Regions from separate parts of the Homo sapiens genome. Here region 1 is linked to region 2. A link means that fine-mapping ties the variant in region 2 to the expression of a gene that starts in the linked region. Tissue or cell type: left ventricle. Region 2 holds a variant in brackets; the other region holds the start of a gene. All regions are shown on one strand. Distances are from middle to middle.

What was found. PIP is the estimated chance that this variant, and not a neighbour inherited with it, causes the effect.
Region 1: CD163L1 starts here. The variant in region 2 is fine-mapped to the expression of CD163L1 in left ventricle (GTEx, PIP 0.93).

Annotation. Positions count from the first base shown.
Region 1 is chr12:7,440,033-7,448,142 of GRCh38, reverse strand. CD163L1 (CD163 molecule like 1) reads left to right here and starts at 3,990. Exons shown (of 20, transcript NM_174941.6): 1 at 3,990-4,046; 2 at 6,897-6,989. The coding sequence starts at 4,016. It also overlaps the pseudogene LOC100419928.
Region 2 is chr12:7,257,388-7,265,497 of GRCh38, reverse strand. No RefSeq gene overlaps it. Among named protein-coding and RNA genes, the nearest start is that of ACSM4, 43 kb to the left of the region's middle. RefSeq lists a silencer at 6,188-6,388. The variant T/AAT (reference allele first, on the strand shown) is at 4,084.

The DNA.
Region 1 (8,110 bases), 180 kb before region 2:
AACTGAGCCCCTCAGTACAACATTCTGCCAGCAACCATATTAGGGACTGTATTAGTCTGCTCTGGCTGTCATAACAAAATACCACAGACTGGGTGGCTTCAGCTACAGAAATTTATGCTCTCACAGTTATGGAGGCTAGAAGTCCATGTTCAAGGTGCCAGCAAATTTGGTTTCTGGTGAGGGCTCTCTTCCTGGCTTGCAAACAGCCACCTTCTCTCTGTGTCCTCACATGGCCTTTCCTCTTTGCATGTGTGAAGAGAGTTCTCTGTGTCTTGTTTTGTTCTTATAAGGATAGTAATCCTGGATTAGGACTTCACTCTTATAACTTTATGTAATGTTAATTACTTCCCTAAAGGCCCTATCTTCAAATATAGTCACATTAGGGCTTCAACCTGTGGATTTTGTGGGGGACAAAATTCATTCCGTAACATTCTACCCTCCACTCCCAAATTCATGTTATTCTCACATGATAAATATATTAATCCCATTCCAACAACACATAAAGTCTTAACCCTTTCCAGCATCAATTCTAAAGTCTAAAGTGCAAAGTCTCATTTAAATCAGGTATGGGTGAGACTCAAGTTATGATTCATCCTGAGGCAAAATTCCTTTCCAGTTGTGAACCTGTGAAGCCAGACAAGTTATGTGCATCCAAAAAACAGTAGTGGGACAGGCATAAGACAGACATTCTCATTCCAAAAAGGAGAAGTGGCAAATTCCATTAGATCTTAAGATTCAACAATAATTATCTTTGGCTGAATCCTCTGCCCTCCAGGCCCACTGGGGTGGCATTGTCACCACCACAGCTGTAAGTAGCAGACTGTTAAAACTTTTTGTGGCTGCTCCACTCCTCAGGCACGGATGGAGGCAGCCTGGTCTACTGAAACTGAGGAGATGGTCCCATCCTCTGAAACTGAGGACAAAACAGCCTTTCCTCTGGGCCTATAGTGGGAGTTACAGCACTGATGACCTCTGAATCACCTTCAAGGTCATTTATCCCTTTCCTTGAAGGATAAAGCATGTTCACAGCTGAATATCTCTATTATTTCATCCTACAGAATCTCAGAAGTCAGAAAGCTTTCCATGATTTATTTCAACCCATTTCTATTCTCTTTGGTCCAAACTGGCAGGGTCTCTGCTGATATAATCCCATCTCTATTCAAGGCTCCCGCTAAGGTGGATGAAAAAAGTCATGGTTAATTTCCCTATGGAGTGATTGAGGCGCCACACCATTGATGTTCTCTCCAGAACACATTTTATCATTTTTTTGCTATATAAATAGGCCGAGATTTTTCCAAATCTTCAGTTTCTGGGTTGCTTTTGTTTTTGTTTTTTGCTTAACAATGCTGTCAATTTATCTTTCCCCTCTAGCCTTTTACCATGAGCAATTAGGAAAAACTAGGCTGTGCTTTTAACACTTTGCTTATATATCTTCCCTTTTAAAAATCCAAAGTTGTAATTCACAAGTCCTACACTTTACAAAACACTAAGACACAATTCAGACAAGTTCTTTGCCACTTTAAAACAAAAATCATCTTTTCTGCAGTTTCCAATAACATGTTCCTCACTTCCATGGAAGACTTCATCAGAATTGCTTTTAGCATTCATGTTTTTATTAACAGTCCCTTCAAGGCAATTTAGGCTTTCTCAGGCATGCACCTGAAAACTTTTCTAGCCTCTATTCACTACCCAGTTCCAAAGGCACTTCCACATTTTTAGGTTATCTGTTACAGAAGCATCTCCCTTCTCAGTACCAACATCTGCATTTGTCTGCTTGGATCAACATAGCAAAGTACTGTAGACTGAGTCACTTAAAAATGACAGAAATTTATTTTTCACATTTCTGGAGGCTAGAAGTTCATTATCAAGGTACCAGGAAATTTGGTTTCTAGTGAGGGCTCTCTTGCTGGCTTTTAGACATCCACTTTTTGTCTGTGTCCTCACGTGGCCTTTCTTCTGCACATTTGTGGAAAGAGAGAGAACAAGCTCTGGTGTCCCTTCTTGTAAGGACATCAATCCTATTGGATTAGGGCCTCACCCTTATAATCTCAAGTAACCTTAATTACCTCCTTAAAGGCCCTGTCTTGAAACATAGTCACACTGGGGGGTTATTGCTTTAATCTATAAATTTTGAGGAGACACAATTCAGTCCATGGAATAGCAGTGGCCATGGGAGCAGATCCTTCCTCAGTCAAGCTTCCAGGTGAGACCACAGCCCCAGTTTACAATGTAATTATAGCCCTGTGTGAGATCTTGAAGCAGAATATCCAGCTATTTCCCCAAAGAGATAGTTATCACATCCCTTATGCTTTTTTATCATAAAGGCAAGAAAGGGACTCATTTAGATTAGAACCTGCTACGAAATATTTGAGAGTGAGAGAACTTGGGTGTCTAGAAATGGGAGAAACTCAAAACAGTAGCAGAGATATTGTGGAGACATTTATTCTATCAAAGAATAGCAATAATCAGGTTTTCATTGTTTTCTATTTTCAGTTCCCACTTCTGTGAGATCATTTTATCAGCAGTTAGTTTGCTATGGATTCTGTTAGCATGAAAGCGTTTCCGGTCATACTGTATTTTAAAAATTTCAGGAAATTTTCTCAGCATGGCTGAGAAATAATATACTAAAACAAGTTTCAGCATCCTCTTTTTGTGTCTTCCATTCTTCCATCATGTGACTTATCCTAGTTAGTGAATTACATTTCCCCAAAGACATTTCATCTCAAGCTTTCCAAGAAAAAATTCTCCCTGTTTTCCTCCTGATTTCTTCTGACTTTGGGCACCTACCTCAGTTCTGAGAAGTAAGAAAGAGACTATATTTTGAGAATGGCACTTTATCATTTCAGAGGCACATCTCGCTCATATCTAGCAAGCTCCGATGTTTAATTGGACTTCAAAATACATTTGGCATTAATTGCAGCAGAATTTTATTTAACCTCTGTTATATAAAGCCTTGTCAGGTATCTAAGTTGAAAAGGGACAAGAAAAAATAAAGTTCTTGAATTTATCAATGGAGATTTATAAGGACTTATTTATCTAAAGTATTTAGATATTTTATATCTCATTTTAATTTCTGTATATATTAGCTTCTTTTTTACTAATAGGCCTACTCGACATGGAAGTATAGGACGAAAAATCCTGGCAAACACTCTGATGGGCTCACTTGGGTCATTGGCTTTTCCTTGAACTTGTCACTGTAATCGGGGAGACGTGGGCGTGTGAAAAGATGTGATCTACCATTCTTAACATATCAAGGAAGGGAAAAAGCAATTTTCCCAAAGAAGCAGGGCAGGACATACAGGCCTATCCGAACACAGAACAATCACTATGAGCTCAGAAGCCACTCATGGTTTTCTACCTAATGGTTGAAATCATTTAAATGAATGTTTTCCAAACTCATTTGATGACTAAGCTTTATTTTCTTTTACATAATCATTAACAATAAAAAACTAATTTTAAAGGACTCCATTTTGTTAAACATTTTTATAGACATGAAATTTTTTCAAATATGTTTATCTGTGCTCATGTTTCATCAGCAAAGCTTTCGTAGACTAGCCAGTTTTCAGCAATGTAACCTCTTCTGATCCTTTTAGCATAACTGGTTGAAATATGTATGCTAAAGTAAACAAACCTGATGATATATTTTATCTTTTAGATAAATATCTATAAAACTGTGCTGACAAGATCACATTTATGGAACAAAAATTTTTAAATGTGAAACATGAGTCTTTTTGAAAATTTAGAGTGGCAATTTACAGTTCCCTTTATTCTGTGAGACTTTCCAGGCATATTATTTAACTTCCTTTGTTTTCCATATCCTAACGTGATAAGGAAGTAGCAAAGAAAAAACAACCTCAGCTTTTATAATGACTTCCCCTTTGGAAAACTATGAACTCAATTTTACAGTATTGTCATTTCCAAATAGCAGATCTGTTTTCACCTCATGAGCAGTTCTGAGATTATATATAAGAGGACCCAGGAGTTACATCAGGACTCAGGAAGAGATAGACCCATAATGATGCTGCCTCAAAACTCGTGGCATATTGGTAAGGTTTTGCTTTTATTTTGCTCTGCCATTTGGGAGATGGTGGGTATACTAAGAATATGTGTAACAACAAACAGATATAAATATTATGTAGTAAGGTAAAAAGAAAACAGGACATGAGAAATATAAAAAAATTGAAAGTTTTGTGGAACTTAGAGTAGCAGCAATATTGGAGGCAAAACTGAAATCCAAGAAAGGAGGAAAACATTAATAAAGTAAACAGAAAATGTATTATAAAGACTGGAGATTAGAAGTCACACAAGGATATGAAGTTGTGGAAATAGAAAGAAGGGATAAATTAGAAACTTATTGTTATCAAGTGCCAGGTACTACAGTAAATGCTTTAGGTCATCTCAATTTAATTCACACATGTAACCTATTTTATAGATATTATTGTCTCCATTGGTAGATGGAAAATGAAGACTTATAAGGACTAACTGACTTATGTAAGGTCATGTAGTAGAATCTCAAGTGTAATTTAAATTCAGGACCAGCTAAGTCTGAGCCCTTGATCTTTCTGCTATAAATTTTAATAAAGCAAATAAATAAGAAGACATTATGATAAAAAACAAAGAACAAGTCTTTGATGGACCCTAAAGAGTAAGGACTAAGAAAGGAATACATGGCTAAGAAGTCTTTCACAGCACATCTGAAATTAGTAGTAACCTTTGCACTTGCACTTCATAGACATTTCGTGGAAATAAAGAATCACGAAGGGAGGTTTTTGCTGTATTTGGGACTTATAACTCCTAAATAGGATTGAGGCTTTTGAAAATGCAGTGCTACTCCTGTTGGCATTGTGTCTCTGTGCCATTCCTCAGTGCAATTACTACAAGTCAACTTAATATTTTGTAACTGTTTTGCTTATGACTAAAGACCAGCACATTTCTAGAAAACCAGCAGAAGTTCTGATATTTTTCAAAGCCTCCTTTTTGAAAAAGGGTTTCTACAGTTTGAGAAGCTTGGCTGCCTTCTATCTAGCAAGGCTCATCTTAATGAATTACAGTTCTTCATAATTCATGTGTGTTACTTAAAAGATAATATTATTTAACTTTCAACATGCTGTCTGCCATGTATCTAATTAGAAAAGGAATGGGAAAGATGAAGGTCTTGAATTGGTGAGATGGTATTAGATATATAGAAGGTCACAAGTTCTGGCAATTATACTTTAATTCTCCTTCTCAAGAATTTCCTACTGCACTATTTGTTCACGTTCATCAGATCTTGATTGTGCTGGTGTCAGAGCTTACTATTCTTTTTTCTTTATAGTTCATCTTTAGCTCTAACCATTCTTACAAATGGGCACTCAGAGTTTCCTGGAAGGATTTAGGAAGATGAAATGGCCTCCTAGGATAATCCTACACATGAGGTTTGATGGAACTAAATATTCTTATTAGGAACAAAAGAAATAAGAGAAAAAAGAAGACCAACTTAAAGTGTTTTGGACAAGATGGAAAAGAAGGAAATTGGGACACTAATTGCCCATTCCACACTTATTTCTCCCTGTTTCGTTCTATAGGGAGGGTTTTCTCTTGATTTGGGTACATTTTCCAAGAATGATGGATGTGACTGATGATAATTGTAATAATAAAGTCTCCTCTATGGTTATTACTGACTGTTGCCAAACTCACTTGGGATTACTTCTTAGAGAAGTGCCCGGGATCCATTTTAGTTTCAAAGCATCATTTGAAAAACTAAAGATGTCCACCAAAGCAGGTTGCGCCTTCTGTCTCTGCTTTTGCGTAGCCCAAGCAGCATGGGCCTTTCCCCGATGGGTACTGTTCCTTCTGTCCTCTTAGGGTTTTTGTTTTTTGTTGTCTGGGATTACACATGCTCAGTTTAACTCTGACTTCATCTTTTCCATAAGATACTAATGAAAATACTATTTAAGATAGTTCTCTAACAGTTACAGCTGTTACATACCCCTCAAGTAAACAGGATGATAAATATTATTTTAAAGTATTTCTTATACATTTATTTACCCCTATGAATTAATCATCCCATCTGCTTTTAAAATAATCTTTCTATAATGTAAATTTTATTTATTACACTGATTCAATTCTTTATAGTCTCCAAATAACTCTCAGAATAAATTCTCAACTCCTTCGCTTGTGTATTGCTCCTGCCTATCTTAGTTCATTCTTTCCCCACACGTGTAGCATAAACTTTATTAGATGCAGAACTGAGCATGACTGAAAAGACAGGGAGAAGTGAGGAAGTGGCAAGATTCTGTAGGAATAATAGAATAGTGACCCTGAAGAAAAGTGGATAGCTTTGGTAAATAATCATGAGCTCAATCAGCAGTTATTATAGTGACCTCCAAATGTTGATTTGCTTGTACATTCCAGTCACAAGCCACTGAGTGGAATACAGGCAAGAACACTTATTCATTCCTCTATTCCCATAATGAAGCACAAGATCGGGTACATATGTCATACTCAATAAAGGAGCAAATGAATGAACAAAGTAGGGGGATAACGTTAGGAGGAAAAACAGTAAAAATGAGGAGAGGGTCAAAGAGTTGAGAAGTAAAAATTACTCAGTAACCCAAAATGCTAATCAATTACCCCAAACAGCCACAAAATATATTTGGACACAGAATGCAATTTTTCAATGAATCACATGCTAAAATATCTGCCCTGTTACAAACCACTTGGTGCCTTTCCATCACAAACAGGAGCTAGTCCTGTGGCTTTTCCTGGGAAAAGGACTTTCTTGTGCGGTATCCTTGACAGGTGGAAGAATAATTCATCTTACTCCTTCTATTTTATTTTGGATTTAAGTCATTGAGGTCATCTAACATTTCTTAGAAAGACATGAAATTCTACCCTGCTATATTTTGTTTCTCCAGATTTTGGAAGATGCTGCTGTCATCAGAACCTTTTCTCTGCTGTGGTAACTTGCATCCTGCTCCTGAATTCCTGCTTTCTCATCAGCAGTTTTAGTGAGTTCTGATGGATGATAACTTTTGGGCTTACAATCCTCTATTCTACCTTTCCCCTACTCACTACCCTAAGTGCATATTTTGAGGGAAATAGAACATGTAAAAATAATGTTGGACCTTCAATAGCTATACCCTGTAAATAAAGGTGTCCAAATTATTTTTATGCATTTCATATTACATTTTTCGTTGACATTTTTCTCCTTCAGATAAAGAGAATTTCCAAATCCGGCCGGGCACAGTGGCTCAGGCCTGTAATCTCAGCACTTTGGGAGGCCAAGGTGGGGAGATCACCTGAGGTCAGGAGTTCGAGACCAGCCTGGCCAACACAGTGAAACCACATCTCTATTAAAAATACAAAAATTAGCCGGGTGTGGTGGTGTGCACCTGTAACCCCAGCTACTTGGGGGGCTGAAGTGGAAGAATTGCTTGAACCCAGGAAGTGGAGGTTGTAGTGAGCCGAGATCGTGCCCCTACACTCCAGCCTGGGCGACAGAGCAAGACTCCATCTCAAAAAAAAAAAAAAAGAAAAAAGATAAAGATAGTTTCCAAACGTAAAATGTCTCACTGAAAAAATATGGATATTGTATTTTTGCAAATAGAAAAATCGGTTAATAAAAACTTACAAGATACAGAAATCAAAGAATTAAATACAATTAAAAATATATATGTGTTACACACCATGGAATACTATGCAGCCATAAAAAGATGAATTCAAGGGCCGGGCTGGGCGCGGGAGCTGGCCGGGCTGGGCGCGCCGCGGTCCCGCACCCACTTCCGCTTCCCGTGCGGCGGTGGGGGGATGGCGGCAGGGCCGGTGGGCGGCGGCGGCTCCAGGTCCCTGCCCGGGCGCGGCACTGCGCAGTCCGCCCTCCCCGTCGCAGGGGCGCTCCTGAGCTTCGCGGGGCCGCCTCCAGGGCTGCCTGCGCGGAGGGCCGGCCGCGGCCGACGCGAGTGTTAAGTGTCCGCCCTGGCCGGCTACCCGGAGCCAAGAGCAGGCGGCGGAGCCTGAGCGGGACGTGGCCACGCTGGCGCGGCGGGTCCAAGCCCGCCATTGGTCGGCTTCCGTTACGCCGCTGATGTGGAGTAGGGCGGAGCGCGGAACGCGAGGAGCTGCTGGGGTG
Region 2 (8,110 bases):
GAGGCTATATGAGCAAATAGCAAACTGTTCTCATGAAAGCGGGAGTTGGCAAACTGGCAAACTGCATCTGCTGCCAGAAGGAATGCTGAGGCAGTCACGCCCCAAGCGCAGTGTTCCTTGTGGTTATCTATAGGAATATCTGAAGCCTGTAGTATAAAAAAAGCAATTAGGTGAACCTGTGATAAATCAAGCAGCTGACCAACCATTACCTTTCCTCCCTGTTGATTCTACGTAATAAATACAAAGGGCTGTAGAAGCTCAGGGCCCTTGCTCACTAGAAACAAGGAGCCCCCCACCCCTTCTTTTAAAACAGATCTTTTGTCTTTGTCTTCATTTCTGCATTCGTCCTCCTTCGTTCAGTCCCATAGTAACCGTCACAGGAAGGGGCTGTCACTCTGTCTTTGTCCCCTTAGGAGCTGATGGCACATACATTAGACAATAGCTAAACATGAGTTGCAGTATTTTCTATGCAGACAGACCAGTGAGTCAAAGATGGTGCTACCATAGACTCCAACCTCTACCTCCTGAGACTTCTGGCCTGAGAGGATAATTGCCTTAGGGAGTCTGCTCTTAAACAGTACTCAGATCTTCAGAGGTTTTCAAGAAGATGAAGGGATTCAGATGCCAGATGTGGTGATCAAAACATGAATTCCATTTCTTCCTCTAGGCCAGTGGGCAGAACCCCAGGTGCAGCCAGAAGAAGAAAGAGCTGTTGTTTCCTATGAATGGAAATCAGAAACCAGTATTTAAGGGTTTAATCCAAATTAATGATCTGCATTTCAGGGCCCCAGATGGTGTAGGTTGGATTACCCCATATATTGCTTCAGACTTTACCCTGTCAGTAAGTGGGGGGTGATGGGCTTGTCACATTTCTTATTTATTCAGCTGGATGAACAGATCATGAGAAATGGGGAAAGTCTATACTGGAACAATTAAATGTTTTTAGAGCCATGTCATTATCTTCCCTCACGCCATTGGAATATAAACTCTATAAAAAGGGAGATTTTTGTCTGTTCTGTTCACTATTCTATTTTTTGCACTTTGGACAATGCCTGGAACATAGTAGCTTTTTTATTTGTTAAATAAATTAATATATTTCTCCCAGAGCAACATCAACATGTGTGGGCTCTTCTTTAGGGACCTTCCTTTTGCCCTTGCTTGGCCCACATATGCATCTTTCTCCAAGGGAGGTATTTGTGGTCTGGATGTGGCTATTCTGGAGTTTCTCATTCATTAATTACCTTGTCAGATTGAACAACTGACATCCTTTGTACTGAAGAAATATCTACAGGAATGTTTTCTGCTGATGGACTTAGAGTTTTCCACTTTTAATAGATTTATTAGCAACAAAATAAAGCACATACACAACACACACACACACTTTTGGGCATGTGTGATGCATAAGTAGAGCTGGTAATTTGTCATCTCTAGACAAACTCAGAGAGGAAGGATGCAGTTTGTATCAGTCAGGATGAACTACGCTATGCTACATAATAAAGAATCCCCCAAATCTCCGTGGTCTATAACATCACAATCTTTTGCTCTCACTACTTGTTCAGCATGGGTTGGCTGAGAGATCTTCTGTGACCTGGCTGATAGAACAACCATTATCTGAAGGATCGCCCATCATAAGTGTGGGAAAGGAAGCAATTATGTGCTCCAGCCTAGACATGGTATACATCATTCCAGCTCATAATTCATTGGCCAGAGCTTGTCACAAGGCCCAAGTGGAAATTGTAGTACTATCTGGGGGGTTGATATGCTTTGGATCTGTGTCCCCACCAAATCTCATGTTGAATTATAATTCTCAGTGTTGGAAATGGGGCCTGGTGGGAGGTGATTGGATCATGGGGGCAGATTGGATCATGGGTGCTGATAGCCAGTGAGTTATCATGAGATCTGGTTATTTAAAAGTGTGTAAAGTATGTAGCACCTTCTCCCATCTCTCTTCCTCCTGCTCCGGCTATGTGAAGTGCTGGCTGCCCCTTTGCCTTCTGTCATGATTGTAAGTTTCCTGAGGTCCCCCAGGCAGCAGAAGCTGCTATGCTTCCTGTACAGCCTGCAGAACCATGAGCCAATTAAACCTCTTTTCTGTATAAATTACCCAGTTACCCAGTCTCAGATATTTATTTTTCTTTCTTTTTTTTCAGGTATTTCTTTATAACAATAAGAGAATGGACTAATACAGGGGTGGATAGCTGGGTAATAACTACCACAGTTGTTTTACCACAGTGTTCTAGATTGATTTTATTTCTGGAAGTTTCTTTCTTTCTCTTTCTTTCTTTCTTTCTTTCAACTTTGTTTCTTTCCTCCTTTTTTTCTTTGCCAATCTCTGGGAAATCATTTTTTCTCTGAGACAGTTTTTCACACTATTGCCCAGGCTGGAGTGTAATGGTGCCATTGTGGTTCACTGCAGCCTCAACCTCCAGAGCTCAGGTGATCCTCTCACACCGGCCTCCTGAGTGTCTGGGACTAAGGACATGTGCCTCCATGGCCGGCTGGTGGTAGTTTTTCATAACAGAACCCAAGAGCACTTTCCTAGAGAGCAGTAGTTTAAATATTAGACTGGCCATTTTGTAACCTCAGCAAACTAGGTCTTACAGCAGCAATGATCATAGACTTCGAATCAGAGAGACGCACCTCTGCTACTTAATAGTTGTGTGGCATTACATAAGACACTAAATCTCTCCAAGATGAGTACTGTCATCTCTAAATTGGGTCTTACTCACAGATAAGATGAAATTGTTATGAAGATACTAGACCATCTAGTGAATTGCTTAGTATACAATATCTGGTACATATTACCAATTCAATACATGTTAGTTAGCTTGGAAGATAGAAAGTCTTACATTTTATTAGTTGGTGTTTCTTGAGCCAAGTTTTCTTGGCAGGTAAAGCTTTTATGTTCTCAGGAGGTCTGGCAATTAAGATTGCTCAAATTTCTCTGTGGGGGAATGTTATTTGAAATGATTCTTCTGTTTACCAGGTTCAACTTACATTAATTCTCTGCTTCCACACACAGTCTTTCACCTATATTCTCTTTACTACAGAATATCTGGAAGTCTCTTCTTTTTAAAAAATTTTCTGAAATATATATATGTGTATATTTGTGTGTATATATACCTCTTTTCTGTATAAAGTACCCAGTTACCCAGTCTCAGGTATTTATTTTTCTTTCTTTTTTTTCAGGTATTTCTTTTTTTTTTTTTTTTTTTTTTTTTTTTGAGACAGAGTCTCGCTCTGTTGCCCAGGCTGGAGTGCAGTGGCAGAATCTCAGCTCACTGCAACCTCCACCTCCCCGGTTCAAGCAATTTTCATTCCTCAGCCTCCTGAATAGCTGGGATTGCAGGTGCGCCCCATCATGCCTGGCTAATTTTTATATTTTTAGTAGAGATAGGGTTCCACCATGTTGGCCAGACTGGTCTCGAACTCCTGGCCTCAAGTGATGTGCCTGCCATGACCTCCCAAAGTGCTAGAAGTCTCAATATTAGTCTCAACCTTGGATATCCATCAGAATCCCCAGGGCATTTTTCAAAAGATCTATGCCTGAGCCCCACCTCAGACCAATTAAATCAGTTTCTCTGGGAGTGGGGACCCAGTCATCCATATTTTTAAAGCTCCTCTGGGGATTCTGGTGAGCAGCGAGGACTGAGAACTGCTGCTCTACATGTCTGGTTTTTGCCCATGTCTCTAGCCTCATCTCCTGCCACTGTCCTCCCTGTGCTCATCACGCTTTTTTTTTTGCTGTTCATTGAACATGCCAAGGTGGCTCCTACTCCAGAACCTTGACATTCACTGTTCCCTCAGCCTAAGTGTGTTGCTTCAGATTTCCATATAACTGATTCTTGTTCATGAGGTCTCAACTCAAATGTCATGTCTTCAGAATTTCACTCCACTACCCATTCTAAAGTAGCACTCCTCATCTGGTTTTACTTGAGCTATTTGCTGATTAATCTGCTATTTTCCTGCCTGTCTTCTCATTAGAACGTAGACTCCAAAAAAGTAGAGCTCTTGTCTGATTTATTCACTATTATATGTCCAGGGTTTAGAGCACTATCTGGCACATAGTAGATACTCAATAAA[T/AAT]ATTTGTTGAATAAATTATTCTTGTCTGCCATAAACTAATATAATTACAAAATGTTGTTTTAATGATCAATTCTTACGATATATTTACAAAACAATCATTTCCTTAGAAGCGAGCCTTGCAGTTTCTATTTTCTCATGCCCCTTTACATAGTTTATATTGTTTAACTATTTGTTATAGGGAGAAAAAAGAGATAACGCTATAGATAAATACCCATTTTTATTACGATTATTGTACCTACAGCCTTTGCTCTATCCTGTTTTCCTGTCCATTTTATTCTTTTCTCTCAGTGGTTACCATCATTCTGAAGGTTTCTTGGGTTTGAAGGCATTGATGTTTCTTTTCCTTAAATTTCTCTCTCTAGTGATCATTAAGAAAGACTAGGGGACTTGAGTGAAATGTCTGGGTTTGAATTCTGACCCTGCAAATTTCCAAGGGCAGGTCATTTAACCTCTTTGAACCTCAGTTTCCTCATTAATGAAGTGAGGACACTAATAGTTTCTCAAAAAACTATTTTTTGAGTTCCTGTCTCAAAAAACTGTCATAAAAGAAAGTGAGAAAATATAGGTAAAATTACCTCCTCCTTGCAGAAGCCATCAGCAACAACTTCCTCAACTTGGAGTCTTTCCCTTTCACTCATTTTTTCTCTTCTACATCCCACCTTCCCTGCGTCCAGGGTCAGGAGGAGGGTGTTCTGGATCCCTCCTCTTTGTCTCTACAGTGGCCTCACCCATTTTTCCTTCTCTTTTCTCTTCCAGCTTCTCTGTTACTGACCCTTTCTCACAAGCAGTCAAACACGCTGACATTGTTCCTCTATTTTAAAAGCCAATACCTCACTCTTGGTCTCCTGTTGCTTATATTAATATTTCTCTCCAGATAAAGTTTTTTGTTGTTGTTGTTGTTTTTGTTTGTTTGTTTGTTTGAGATAGGGTCTTTCTCTGTCACCTAGGCTGGAGTGCAGTAGCCCGATCACAGCTCACTTTAGCATTAAACTCCGGAGCTCAAACAATCCTACTGCCTTGGCCTCCAGAGTAGCTGGAACACAGGTGCGTGTCACCATGCCTGGCTAATTTTTTATTTTTTGTAAAGATGATGTATCGCTATGTTGCCCATGCTGGCAGGTTAAGTTCTCAACAGAAAAGTTCACTTTAATTGAGGCTTTTACAGACTTTTCTTCTAGACACCCCTCCACATACTACATTGGCCTCCTGCCCCAACTTCTCTCCTGAAGCTGCCTTTGCCATAATCATAGGGACCCTCTGGGTGCCACATTCAGTTGTTCATTATACATATTGATCTCTTAACAGCATTTGAAACTACTAACCATTCCTTCTTATAACTTTCTCTTTCCTTGGTTTTTATCATATCATTCTCTTCTGCCATTCCTTTTACCTGTCTAACTGTTCCTGCTTCATCTCTTTCTTGGACTCTTCTTCTTAAATATTGGCATTGCAAGGGCTTCACCTTTAGCCTGCTGTTCTTCTGGAACTATATTCTGTGCCTGAGTGACCTCATTCATGTTCATAAATTCAATCACCATTTATACACTGAAGATTTCCCAAGTTCATCTCTCATTTAAACAACTCTTTTGAGAATTAAACCCATTTCTCCAACTATTTCCTGGTATTTCCTGGACATCTTCACCCAAATGTTCAATGAGCGCCTCAAAAAATCAAGAACATAACAATTCTTGAACATATTCCCCTGTTCCCAGAATATAAGTTCAGGAAAATAGGAACTCTTACCAATATTTTTTATTGCTATATCCCTAGAGCTTATAATATTGTCAGACACATATTAAGTGCTCAGTTAATATTGGTTAAATGAATGGAAATTTTCCCCACCAACCTGTTCTTCCCTCTGTATAGCATTAATATTTGCTCAATTATAGCAACATGGTTTCTTGTCATCTCTTTTTTCCTTAATCCTTATATCCCATTGGTTTTCTATGTTCTGTGTATTCAACCTGCTCAATCTAAAGTCCATTTCTTCTCCTACATTCTCACTGATATTTTTCAGGCATTTATAATCTCTCCTTTTGTATCCTCACTGTTCTTATTCATATGATGGGGATAATAATAGGACTTTTCTCATAGGACAGTCATAAGCTTCAGTGAAGTAATATACCCAAACTCTTAGTATGGTGCTGGGATGACTCAGTAAATTTGGCGAGACAGCTGTATTTCTTATGTATCTATATGGATCTCTACAAATACATCTACATGTAGTAAGAGGACAGTCTAGTTAACCTCCATATTTTAGTGTAAGTCCTAACCCAGGAGAGAATGTATTGAACAGATAAATAAATTTGCTTTGTAATGTCAATCAAGTCATGTCCTTGTTGGCCTTCAGATTATTCATTTATTAATTCAGTTAACTAGACTAGCTAGGATCATTTTATAGCATTTTCATATTACAAAGCACGTTCATAGCCATTAACTCATCTTATTTCCATGGCTATTATTCATCTTATTTCCATAGCATTTATTATCATTAGCACCCCAATTTTCAGGTGAAATAACTGAGGCTTAGGATATTAGTTGTCCATAACCCGTCCACTACTTGTTAAAAGCAGAATCAGGATTTGAACCCAGTCTTCTAATGCTAAGTCCTATTGTTCTAAATATTCAGGTGAAAATATATGCATTTTATTTTCGTGTTTCAGGAAGTTGTTTGTGGTCTCTTATTGCACTGTTTTTTCTTGAGTCAGTTGGTGTTGAAGGATGGAACTTAGTGGTAGAAGCCACTCTAGAGCCCTAGTTCCTTTAGCTTACAGAAGAAAAAGAAACAATAAAAATCCATTTCCTTTAGAGGTTGTGAAATCAGAGGAAAAAGCCACCTCATCCCACACCCCAGTTGTAGTCAAGAGCCAGACTTTGCTGAGGCATTTTGGCAGATTGAACCCTTTGTCTGTGTTGACATAGATGCTGAGGGGAGCTTTCTTTATTATGAGATAAAGAGACAGGATCTGAGATTATAAAAGCTTTCACATGTCAGAAAAAGAACCAGTGGGAACAAGTTCATTCATGAAGCTGCCTTAAGGAACTGCAGGTGTTGAGGCACTGGGAGAGACATACACAAATGGATAGATTTCAGGTTTCCAGGACCTCCACCCAGTCACCATCATAAGTACTCATTTGGGGAATCCAGATTGTTCATTGCCTAGCCCAGTGGTTTTTCAAGTATGTTTTGTGGACCTTCAGAGTCAGAAGAATTTGGGGTATTTTCACTTGTTGCCCTATTTACATGATTTTTCTAAATCATTTGAAAGTAAGTTGCAGACATTATTTTCTTTTTTAAATTCTTCAGCATTCATCTTTAAAACATGAGGACATTCTCCCATATAGCCATAATAGGAGAATATTATGACCATCGAAGACATTCATAATTCCTAAATATCATTTATAACCATTCCACACTAAAAATTCCTCAATGGTCCCAAAATGTCTTTTATAGCTTTTTTAAAAGTCCAGGATTCAAGCACGTCTCCTGTAATGTAGAAGAATTCTCTTGCTTTTTTTACCCATGACATTGTCTTGAGAAGAATCCAGATCAGTTGTTGTCTTGATGAATATCTCACATACTGCCTGTGTATTTTTGTGTCCTTGTGGTCTCAATTAACTTGTTCAGGGAAACTGGCAGTCTACTACGCTGCTGAGAGTATAAATTGAGGTCATCTTCCTGGAGGGAAATGGGTAATATATTTTAAAACTTTCACAGACTTTAAATTAAGCTGGAGCCCGATTAGATTCAGGATAAACACTTCTAGCAGGACATTTCATAAATAATCCATGTATAACGCACTGCATCATCTTACTAGGCACATGATGTCAGATTGTCCCACTATTGATGATGTTAAATTTGTTCACTTGGTTCAGATGGTGTCAGCCACACTTTGCAAGTGTAACTTTCACCTAGAGGACATAGCATCCAGTTATGATCCTTATCTAAATCAATCATTGGAGATTGCAAAATGTTGATTTCCAAATTCTGTTATTCTTTCTACTTTTACTAACCAGAGTTTTCCTC